2 separate regions of the Homo sapiens genome follow, and region 2 is linked to region 1. Evidence: fine-mapped expression QTL. A gene starts in region 1. The other region holds a variant in brackets. All regions are shown on one strand. Distances are between the middles of the regions. Region 1 holds the start of GPR153 (G protein-coupled receptor 153). Region 2 overlaps ACOT7 (acyl-CoA thioesterase 7).

Evidence for each region. PIP is the estimated chance that this variant, and not a neighbour inherited with it, causes the effect. A credible set is the group of variants that fine-mapping cannot tell apart.
Region 2: its variant is the best candidate, but not a certain one, in a credible set for the expression of GPR153 in whole blood (TOPMed, PIP 0.71).

The regions. Positions count from the first base shown.
Region 1 is chr1:6,258,710-6,264,069 of GRCh38, forward strand. GPR153 (G protein-coupled receptor 153) reads right to left here and starts at 2,389. Exons shown (of 6, transcript NM_207370.4): 1 at 2,116-2,389. RefSeq lists silencers at 1,419-1,608, 1,779-1,938, 1,959-2,128, 2,309-2,628.
Region 2 is chr1:6,348,101-6,353,460 of GRCh38, forward strand. It overlaps ACOT7 (acyl-CoA thioesterase 7), which reads right to left. Exons shown (of 9, transcript NM_007274.4): 2 at 1,649-1,766. Among named protein-coding and RNA genes, the nearest start is that of ACOT7, 43 kb to the right of the region's middle. The variant T/C (reference allele first, on the strand shown) is at 3,060.

The DNA of each region.
Region 1 (5,360 bases):
GCATCTATTTCTACCTGCCCAAGGCAGCCTCGGCTGTGAGACTGGGAGGCCTTCCCTCAGATGCCCAACAAGCTCTGTCTAGCCCCGTGAACAAGCTCTGTCTAGCCCCGTGACCTTGGCCCCGCCCACCCTGTCCATGTGTTGATTACTGGTGCAGGGTGGTAAGGAAAGAGCCACAGGCTGCAACCAGCCCAGCCCTTCGCGGTGCCAGTTCTTCCTCTCGTCTAGCCTAATGCTGCATTACTGCTGGGAAAGGCTTTAGGTCTGAAGGCAGGGTGCAGTGGCTCATGCCTGTAATCCTAGCACTCGGGGAGGCCAAGGTGAGTGGATGGCTTGAGCCCGGGAGTTCGAGACCAGCTTGGGCAACATGGGGAAAACCCATCTGTACAACAAATAAAAAAATTGGCCAGGCGTAGTGGTGTGAGCCTATAGTCCCAGCTACTTGGAAGGCTGAGGTGTGAGGATCACCTGAGCCTGGGGAGGTCAAGGATACAGTGAGCCATGATTGTGCCACTGCACTCTAGCCTGAGCAACAGAGTGAGACCCTGTCTTAAAAAGAAAAAGGCTCTAGGTCTGTGGGCAGGGGCACGTGCATCCTCTTGCACACGGGCATGCTCCTCCAGTGAGTGCCCCCACAATTCATCCCCATTGTAAAGTTTGTCCAGCAGAAGCAGGGAGAGGTAAAGCTGTTTGCCCGGCCAGCACTTGCCTGAGCCAGGATCCAAACTCCACTTGCCTGACACCAAAGTCCTGGCCTCTCAAACCCTAAAATGTTGGGGAAAAGGGCATTTTTTTTTTTTTTGTCCCTAGAGCTGAGGTCTTTCTGAGCCTCAGGTCTGCAGGGCAGGTCTCACCGTCCCCACACTGCAGATGGGAACACTTCAGGCAGAAGCTCAGGGCAACACGGAGAGAATAGTGTCAGGGCTGGGTTTGGGGCCAGGCACTCCTGGGCACTGTAGTCTTGGCATGGGAGAGGAACGTCCTGGGGGACAGGGCGTGGACACCGGGTTCCAAGTGCAGAGTGACAGAGGACTGGTTGTGTGGGAACAAAGTGTCCCTCTGGCTCTGGGTCAGTGACCACAGATCCACGGATTGCACCCTTTCTGTTCATTCTTCATAGAATGGAGCGGCCACTAGGGCCAGACCCCAGGCTGGGCTCCCCACAGTGCCGACGGGACCCAGTCTCCTGCTGGGAAGTGTCTCCTGCAGGGCACTTAAAGCCCTGTCTTCTGCTGGGAAGTTTCTCCTGCAGGGCACTTAAAGCATTCCGCAGCATCTCAGGACCCGGCTTCCCACTTCCCCGCCCACTGCAGGGCCAACTGCAGGTGCAACTAGCCTGGGACCCACCCGGGCCATGAGGCCTCCCTCCGCAAGACATGCGGGCGGGGCCGGGGCGTGACGTCACAGCTCCGGGCCAATGAGGCCGCGCGGCCCCGAGGCCCCATTGCGCAACAAAGAGAACCCAGAACTTGAAAGGATTCCCCGGGCTCTGGCTGCGCCCCGGCTTCCGCCCCCACGCCGGTCTCCGCCCGCGCTGCAGCCGATGTGTTCCACGGGGCCCGGCCTGGCCGTCGCCCAGGGAGGGACGCGCAGCGCGAGGCCTGGACATCTCCGGCACGCCCCCCCCAGCCCCCGCCCCTACAGTCCCAACCCCCTGGGGCTCCGATCCCCCCCCCCCCCCGCAATCCCCGCTCCGACTCGCGTGCTCTCGCCTGCTGGTCCCCAGTGGGTGCCCCGAGTCCTGCCCCACCCCGAGGGCGCGTCCGAGCGACAGGCTGGGAAACCTGGCGGGACTGCGGCCCCCGGACCCCTCTGGGTTGCGCCGAGCAGGGGCGGGCTCAGGATCCCCAGACCGCGCCCCGCCCCCGTCCCCTGAGAAGCCCAGGGGGCGGCGCTGCTAGGCCCCGATGCAGGGGGACGGAGGGAGGGGCTGGCCCCAGGGAAGTTACCCCGAAGGTCCCCAAGTTGGGGGGGTGCCAGCGCTAAGCGCCGCTCGTGGGCCCTCGGACGGACCCCGCGACCGATAGGGCGCGGAAAGCCCCCTCCCTTCCCGCCGAGTCCTCCCGCCGGGGTCCTCCCGTCCGTCCGCCCTCGGGCCAGGGCGGCGACGCTCACCCTGCATTCGAGCGCCCGGGGCTCCGGCTCGCTGCTCCCGCCTCCGGCTCCGGCTGCGGTTCCCGCGCCCCCGGGCCGAGCGCAGGCCGCCGAGGGCCGCGGGGGTGGCTGGCGGCGGAGCGGCCCGCGGGCCGGGGCATGCTGGCGGCGGCCACCGGCGGCCGGCGCGCTCCGCTAGGTGGGCTCGGCCCCGCCGCCCCTCCCTCCCCTAGGCGCCGCCGCCGCCGCCGCGCTTCGCTCAGCTCCCGCCGCTCCGCTGCTGCGCCGGGCGGCCGGGGGCGGGGGGCGGAGCAGGGCGCATGTCTCCGCCGGGGCCTCCGCACCGCCCCTCGGCCCGCCCCGCCCCCGCCCGCTCAGAGGCGCGGCCGTCTGTCGGTCTGTCAGCCCGTCCGTCCTTCCGTCAGTCCGTCCGTACGCAGCCCACCCGTGTCCCCGCGTCCGCCCGCGGCCGGCCCGAGCCTCCCTGGGCTGGTGGCGCCTCCTGACAGCGCCGCGCCCCTGGCTCCCAGCTCGGCTCGGTGCACACTCCGGACGCCGCCTTCGGACGCCGGGGCAAGACCCAGGCCCGGAGCTCTGGGGGCCCGGGGGCCAGAGGGAGCTGGGGCAGGAATGGACACTGAGAACCTGGGGCCAGGGCTGGGGCTCAGGGAGACCTTCCTGGAGGAAGCCGCATCTAAGATGAACAATCGGGGCGGGGCGTGGAGAGGACAAGGGACGCATGGCCAGCGGCTTCTAGGAACCGGGAATCCAGTCTGAAGCAGGGGCAGCGAGGGGCAAGGTTGGGCCAGTTACGGATTCACGCTGCTCCCCGGGCCTGGGGGGTCCACTGAGGGAATAAAGTGCACGGGCCACCGGGCTGCCGAGTGGTCCCCGCCACCCCCACAGGCTCAGAAATTGTTCTCTCTGAAACTCTGAGCACCACCGCCCAGCCGGGAGAGGCCAGGGTCTGCAGCCCAGCGCCTGAAGCCTTCTCCTACTCCCCTCCTCCCCTCCTCCCATTCTTCCCGCCCCTCCGCCCCTCCCTCCCAAGCCCTCATGCTATCACCACTCCTCATAGAGCACAGGCTGTCACCCACAGACTGACAGCCTCAGCTGGCCCCATGCAGGCGGAAAGCCTCCTGCTTCTTGATGGGGGCCCTGGAGAGGACGCCTCCTGAGGATCGTGCCTGTCTTTTCTAGAAAGCACCTGACCACACACACAATGGGCACAAGGCCTCTGGGGCTGCCTGGCATAGTGTCCTTCCGTGCCTCTGGGACACATCCATGACTAGGCACCCCTGTGTCTGGAGGAAACTAGGCACCCGACCAGGAGGAGACCCAAACCAATTGCAGCCAAAACGGATGCTTGGAGCTTGCCCAGTCCGGGCAGGGCTGCTCCACAGCCTGCACCTGCCTAAACCGTCCCCACACCCCAGGTCCCTGAGCAGCTTTTAGGGGGCCCAGGATGGGTCTTAGGGTCCGTCCCATGAGACAAAAAGAGGAGTGTCTGTAGAGAAAGGCCCCGCAATAACGTGTGGGGCTGAGCAAGGGGGAATCTGGGGCCATGCACACCTATACTCCCTGTGGTTTCTCGGGCAGCCAGGGCCCTCAGTGTCCCCAGTGAGCCCTCTGTGGACAGGTTGGCTCCCCCTCCAGGTGGTCCTGGTTATAAATAGGCCACCAGCAGTGGGAGGCTGGCACAGGGCAGCTGTAATCAAGGGTGGTGTTTCTAAGTGTCTCGCCTGTGACTCGGGGTGAAACGGTAGAAACGCCACACTTAATTACATGGCCACCGAGAGCCATGCCGCTTAGAAACACCACGGTTAAGATTGCACACACAGCCATGGAGAGCCATGCCTCTGTCTGGGCCTGGCTCCCCTCTGCCAGCCCAGCTGACCCACTGCCTGGACCAGTGCCTCTGCCCGGCCTCAGCTGGCTCTAGGGCAGGTGGGAGATGGCCTCTGATGGCCGCCCCGGGGCCCTGGCTTATTTCGTGCTGTGCTGGGTTCTGCTGCAAAGTGCCCGGTGCCCCTGGGAGGCGGTTTTCAGGTGCCTGGTTTGCCCAAAGCCACACGGATGAGTGGCTGAGCCAGGACTGAACTAGGGAGTCTGATGCGGGGCCCAACTTCAAGTGAAGGGTGTGGGTGCTTTGGGGAACTGGTCCCCTCAGTGAGCCCCTGGGCTCAGGCACTGCTGTGGCCAGCCCTGGGCCTTCTGCTAGCTGGGAAGGGTGGCCTCCTCATTGCTCTGAACCCAGGGCACCATTCTGGCATGGGTCATGGGTGGAGCTGGGGGCCGAGGCTGGCTGAGGCCAGCCCCGGGGGGCCAAGGGGCATGGTGGCGTGGCAGAAGCTTCATGTGGCTGAGCTTGTCCCTCCCACCTCCAACCCCCTCCCAGACAGGAAATAACCCCGTCAGCCGTGACTGGGGCCCGGGACAGATTCCCAAGCTCTTGGCTGGTGTTTCTGCACATCTGGAGCCGAGTCCTCGCTCTCCAGGGGCCAGAGGGAGCCTTGTGCGAGGCCGCAGCTGTTGACGGGCCAGTCTTCTCCAGGCGGCAGGACAGATGTTGGGGCTTCAGGGACAGACTGAATTGGGAACATTCTCCCAGATGCCACTTCTGGGTGTGCTTGATTGGAGGGCCTCCTTTTCAGCCATGGATGCAGGTGGGGTCCTGGTCCCTGTAGTGGCCTTGGCTGGGCCAGATGCACAGATCAACCCTGCTACACCGATACCCTCACCACACACGTGCTCACAGATATGCAGACAGATGCACACGCACATGCACAGATATGTCAGTGACACGTATGCCCACAGCTTCACACCAACGGCACTGACACACATTCGTGCTGTCCCTCAGACCCCTGCCCTATAAGCCATCCCAGCAGACTCCTGCCTGAGTGGCTGGGGGAGTTTCCACGTCAGGCACAGAGTCCTGGCGCCAGCTGGGGGGCTCCTTCAGACAGGATTTTGGGGTGTCTAGGCAGTTTCTAGCAAGAGGCTGGGTCAGGGTGGGGCTCCCACACGCTGAGCCAGGCCACATTTGGCTCTTCCCACACCATCACCTCGCTGAGTCTTTCCCAGCAGCCCCACCCTGTTCATAGGAAAGCCACACAGGCTCAGAGCCGGCATCCTCTGCAAGCCAGACAGGGGGGTTGTGGGGTGCTGGCACTCCCACCAGGCAGCGTGGCCCTGAGCCCACATCCTCCCAGCATCTGGGCTGCCTATGAGGTCCAGGGAGCCAGGGTGTCTGGGGCCAGGACACC
Region 2 (5,360 bases), 89 kb after region 1:
TCCCCACAGCCACCAGAGGGTGCTCTCTGAACGTGACTGAGCTGCACCGGAGCCTCGGGTCCAAAGAATCAATCTACCCCCAGCCCAGCCAGCGAGCCCCTCCTAAACCAGGCACTGCCAGCAAACCCACTCCTGAACCTGTACCACACGACATCCCCCACATCCACGTCCAACCATCCGCACTTACTGTGGCTTGGTTCATTCTACATATGCACACACACATGCATACGCAGATACACACACACACACACGCACACACACACAGCTTCCACTCCTCCACTGAAACACACCCTACCCACTGTTCCAGGCTGAATGCATGTGCCATGCTCTGCATGGCTGTCCCCACCTCCCAAAATCCCTGTGTTGAAATCCTAACCCCCAAGGGAATGGTAGTAGAAGGCAGGGTCTTTGGGAGGTGATGAGAGAATGGGGACAGAGCCCTCACAAATGGGATTAGTGTCCTTATAAAAGGGCCTGAGAGAGCCACTCCTACCAAGCGAGGACACACAGGAAGTGATGTGACATCTATGAACCAGGAAACAAATGGGCCCTCAACAGACACGAAATCTGCCGGCGCCCTGATCCTGGACTTCCAGCCTCCAGGACTGTGAGAAATGCATTTCCATTGTTCACAAGCCAGCAGGCTGTGGTCTTAGTTCCGGCAGCCCAGGCTGACAGAGCCAGCAGCCACTTCCTGCATCTCAACAGTGTGGCTCAGAGCTCACAGTGCCTCCGCTGGTCCCTGGTCTCTGACGTGGCTTCCACTTGGCCTCTTGATAGAGTGGCATTATGCCCGTGCCCATGGTGGGGACCTGCACCTCACACTCCCACTCTCCAAGCTGGGGCTGAGTCTTCCTCTTCTCTGCCTCCCTGGAGGCCACAGAAGGTGTGCTGACCGAGCCCCATAGTGCAGAGGCTGCAGCTGCGGCACCAAGGCAGACGCCCTGTCCTCAGCACCCAAGGGCTGGCTTCCCCCCAACAGCCGCCCTTCAGAGAAAATGTCCCCTCCCCAGGGCTGGGGATGGCTGAATGTCCTACAGCAGCCCTGAGGTTGACACTAGACACCGTGCCCCTTGTCCCCAGCTTTAGGGTCACAGGGCCCTCCCGAGCTACACAATTTTGGGGCAGGTGGAGAGCTGCTCCCATTGTGGGCACAGTGGTACCAGGCCTGTGAGCTTCAAAGCCAGGAAGTGGCCAAGTCACAGAGAGCCACGGCACTTGCTATGGTGCCATGGCCACCAGGGTTGGTCAGGGCAGAGGTGGGACCTCTCCTACATCTGCTGTCTGGCCTCTTATGTCTCAGCTGTTGGCCATCACAATAAACTCCACCCCACGGAGGCGGGGCATGCTTCTGATCAGGGCCAGGTTGGCGGGGGACTCGGCATGGCGGGGAGTGGTGGAGGGAGGGCCTGTCAGCTTGCTTGACGCTTCATCTCTGGTGGGTTCCTACACCTCCTGGCTGAGGCCAAAACCAAGCATAGCTCTGAGGGTCCGGTGCAGAAATACTTGGGCCACTTCTCCCACAGTTCCCAAGGCCCAGTGCACAAGGGGAGGGAAGGCTGCAGGCCTGGCTCCCCGGGGAACTCCTGTCCTGAACTCACACTGGTGCGGCCTCCAGGGCCCAGAGGTATGGGGCCCAGACCCTTACCCCGTTCTGGCTGTTGCAATGCCGGGTGCTGATGATGGCGCCTGCCTCCTCGATCATCTTCAGGATGGTCCCCCCGTGGACATTGCCGGCCACGTTGGCATCATCTGGCCGCATGATCCTAGGGCAGAGGAGAAGCAGGATGAGGCCTCTGGAGAGGATGCCATTTGTGCAACAGTGACAATCCAAGGAGGGGAGAAGGTCCCCAAAGGGCTCAATGGCTCCCGGAGGAAAGAGAACCTTCCCAATGTTTGGGCTCTTCCTAGGTGGTGTGTTCGTCAGGGTGGGGTGCCACCTGCTAGGCCACGGAAGGGGCCCTGAGATGCTGTTTCCATGAGAGAGAAGGAGGGCAGAGGGGCACTTTCTCCCCCTGAAGCCACATGTCCCTGGACTGCCCTGGCAGGGAAGGGCTGATGGTGAAGACCTTTAAGCAAAGCCACAGGGCAGGGAGGTGGTGATCAGCCCTTGGGGTTCCCAGTGACCAACACACAGACTGTGACCCTAGGAGCAAATTCCCGGGACCACCACCACCCCCGTCAGGAGTCCCAGAGAAGCCAGGTAGCCACGGCTGTTCTGAGAACTAAACATGAGTCGCAGCTTCAAGACCCCAGGCCCTGTCAGCAGGTGAGCGCCTGCCCACTGCGCGCTAAGCTCCTCTGTGGGTCCCGGGGGCAGTGTGGAATCAGGCCCTGGATTGAAGGCAAGGAGCCTCCCAGGTCAGAAGGAATGGAAACGCCACCTCACTTCCCCAAAGAGGAACAACTTCATCCTTGCCGTGAGCAGCCGGTAGTGTGGGAGCTCCACGAAATCTCTGGAATCCCAACAAGCCAGCTTGGCAGTCCTGCCAGGGCAAGTTGCCTGGCACCTTCCCAGACAGCACCCAGCTGATGAAAGCCGCCTTCACAGGCCGAGGCCTGGAGACGAGTGACAGGCAGCGGGCACAGGTCCAGGGTCCAGCATCCACCTGCAGCTTGTGTAGCCTGCCCAGCCTTGCTGGACAGTGTGGGGGCCCCAGGAGCAGCGTCTCCCCAGGTCTGCATCTCCTCTCTGCTTCTCTAGCAGCTCCAAGGCTGAGCAAGTCACTCTCCAAGAGCGTTCCTGGCTCTGGCTCTTACTTGCTAGGTAACCTGGGCAAGCTGTCAGAACCCTCAATCCTCCATGTGCTCATCTGTACAATGGGTAGAATGACAACACTGCCTCGCCTAACTGGGAGATCACGCAGATCGCACACTCACTCCACAACAGCGCTGGCAGACACATGGTACACAGTAGATAGTCCACACGTTAACTAGGAGAATTTTTCCCTTTTTGGTAAGTATTTAGCCAACTTGGTTGGAAGCTCCAAGAAACCCACCATCTGGCCACAGGATGCCACTTCTAGAGCAAATGACCACAGATGTCCCCCAGCAACCCA[T/C]AGCTGCCCATCCCCAGTGTCACCCCTCCACCCTGGGTGAGAGTCTATTATGCAAACCAGGGCCCACTTAGGCCAACTGGCTTCTGGCTCTGAGGTCAGGCAGGGCCCAAGGTTCCGTGGGAGGCTCAGGGACAGTTGCCTGTGGAGCGGCCGGCACGGCGTGACACAGTGGCCGGGGGATCCCCAGAGCACACAAGAAACCTCATTTGGCTTCTCAAGTGTTCATTTTAAAATACCTTTGTTTTTAAAAATTGAACTTACTCTATGAAAGGTTTTTGGGCTTTTTTTGTCTGAGTTATGAGGTAGCCAATTATAAGTCACAAAATGATTCTATCAGCCTCTTCCCTTTGTTTTCCACTTAGTAGGAAGGGCCTTCCCCGCACCAGCTGCAGCGGGCAGAGGGTCACTTTCCACACAGGCCTGTCCTGGGGGCACTAGCCAAGGCTGTGGGTGGGTGCGGAGAGCAGGGCCCAGCTCCTGGTTCTAGAGCAGTGAGGAAACATCAGCCCAGCATTTCCCAGGAGCAGCAGAGCCAGCCTCCAGAGCAGCCTGAATGACTGCTGCAGGCCTCACTTTGCCTGTCTGTGAAGTGGAGCCACACACAGCAGGCTGGCCCCCAGGAATGACACAAGGCCAGGGAGAGAAGACGCGGGCCAAGGGCTGCAGAGCAGCGGAGGAAGTGCTTTCATGCGGTGGGCACTGAAGACAGGACAGATATGTGGGTAGCCTTTAAGACAGAAGACCAGGGACAGTGCCTGAGGCCCCGAGGAAGAGCCTGGAGCCACCTGGCAACAAAGTGAGGACTCGGCACTTGGCGCTGTGCCATCAGGAGTACATGCCAGGAACTGCAGACCGCACGCCAGCTGGCTACCACGGGCCTGGCCGCCTTTCTTCGGCACCTTGGGTCCTGCACCAAGGACCATCCTAACTCCCCAACTGACCACCCAGGAAGCCAGCCCCTGCCCTCAAGGTCAGACACAACCCTCTCCCCTACAGGACCTGACTCCTGCCTGGGGACTGTGCTGTCACCTCCAATGCACAAGGCTCAAAGCCCAACTCACTTACCCCTTCTCCCTTTCCCCAAATCAGACACCTTCCCTCCAAGCCAGGGCAGCCAGTGAGTCCCAGCCTCAGCTGGGATTCCTTCCCATCCTGCATACCACCACCAGCTGCTCCACACCTGGCCCCTCCCTCTTCCCCTCCCCACCTCCCTCATTCCTTCCAAACAGCTCAGGAACCGCTGGATCCAGCCAGCCTCCAGGACCCATAAACAGCTCTGTCACTCTCTCAGGCCCCGCCCCATGGCCTGGCCAAGGCCAACCGTGTCCATCCCAGGACAGGGTCATGACTGCCTCTGTCTAAAGGCAGGCAGGGGTGAGAGCCAGGGAGCCAGGGAAGCTGCTGCGTCTCACTGGAGACTTCGTTTTCCCATTTCTTTTTTTTTTTTTTTGAGACGGCGTCTCGCTCTGTCTCCCAGGCTGGAGTGCAGTGGCACGATCTTGGCTCACCGCAAGCTCCGCCTCCTGGGTTCTCCTGCCTCAGCCTCCCGAGTAGCTGGCACTACAGGCGCCCGCCACCACGCCCGGCTAATTTTTTGCATTTTTTAGTAGAGAAGGGGTTTCACCGTATTAGCCAGGATGGTCTTGATCTCCTGACCTCGTTCGTGATCCCATTTCTAATAAAGACACGGGTACCGAAAGCACTTCATGTTCCTCTTTACTATTTTGTTTGTTTTTTGAGACAGCGTCTCATTCTGTCACCCAGGCTGGAGTACAGTGGCATGATCTTGGCTCACTGCAAACTCCGTCTCCTGGGTTCAAGCGATTCCCCTGCCTCAGCCTTCCGAGTAAGTGGGATTACAAGCATGCACCACCACGCCTGGCTAAATTTTGTATTTTTACTAGAGACAGGGTTTTGCCATGTTGCCCAGGCTGTCTCAAATTCCTGACCTCAGGTGATCCTAAAGTGCTGGGATTACAGGTGTGAGCCACCGCACCCGGCCCCTCTTTACTATTAAAAAACTGAAATACAGGCTGGGCGCAGTGGCTACTAGGGAGGCTGAGGTAGGAGGATCACTTGAGCCTGGGAAGAGTACGTTGCAGTGAGCCACAATTGCACCACTGCACTCAAGCCTGGGCAACAGAGTGAGATGCTGTCTCAAAAGAAAAAAAAAATTGAAATATATTTGGCTGCTGGGCGCGGTGGCTCACACCTGTAATCCCAGCACTTACAGAGGCCGAGGCGGGGGCGGATCACTTGAGGTCAGGAATTCAGGACTTGCCTGGCCAAAATGGCAAAACC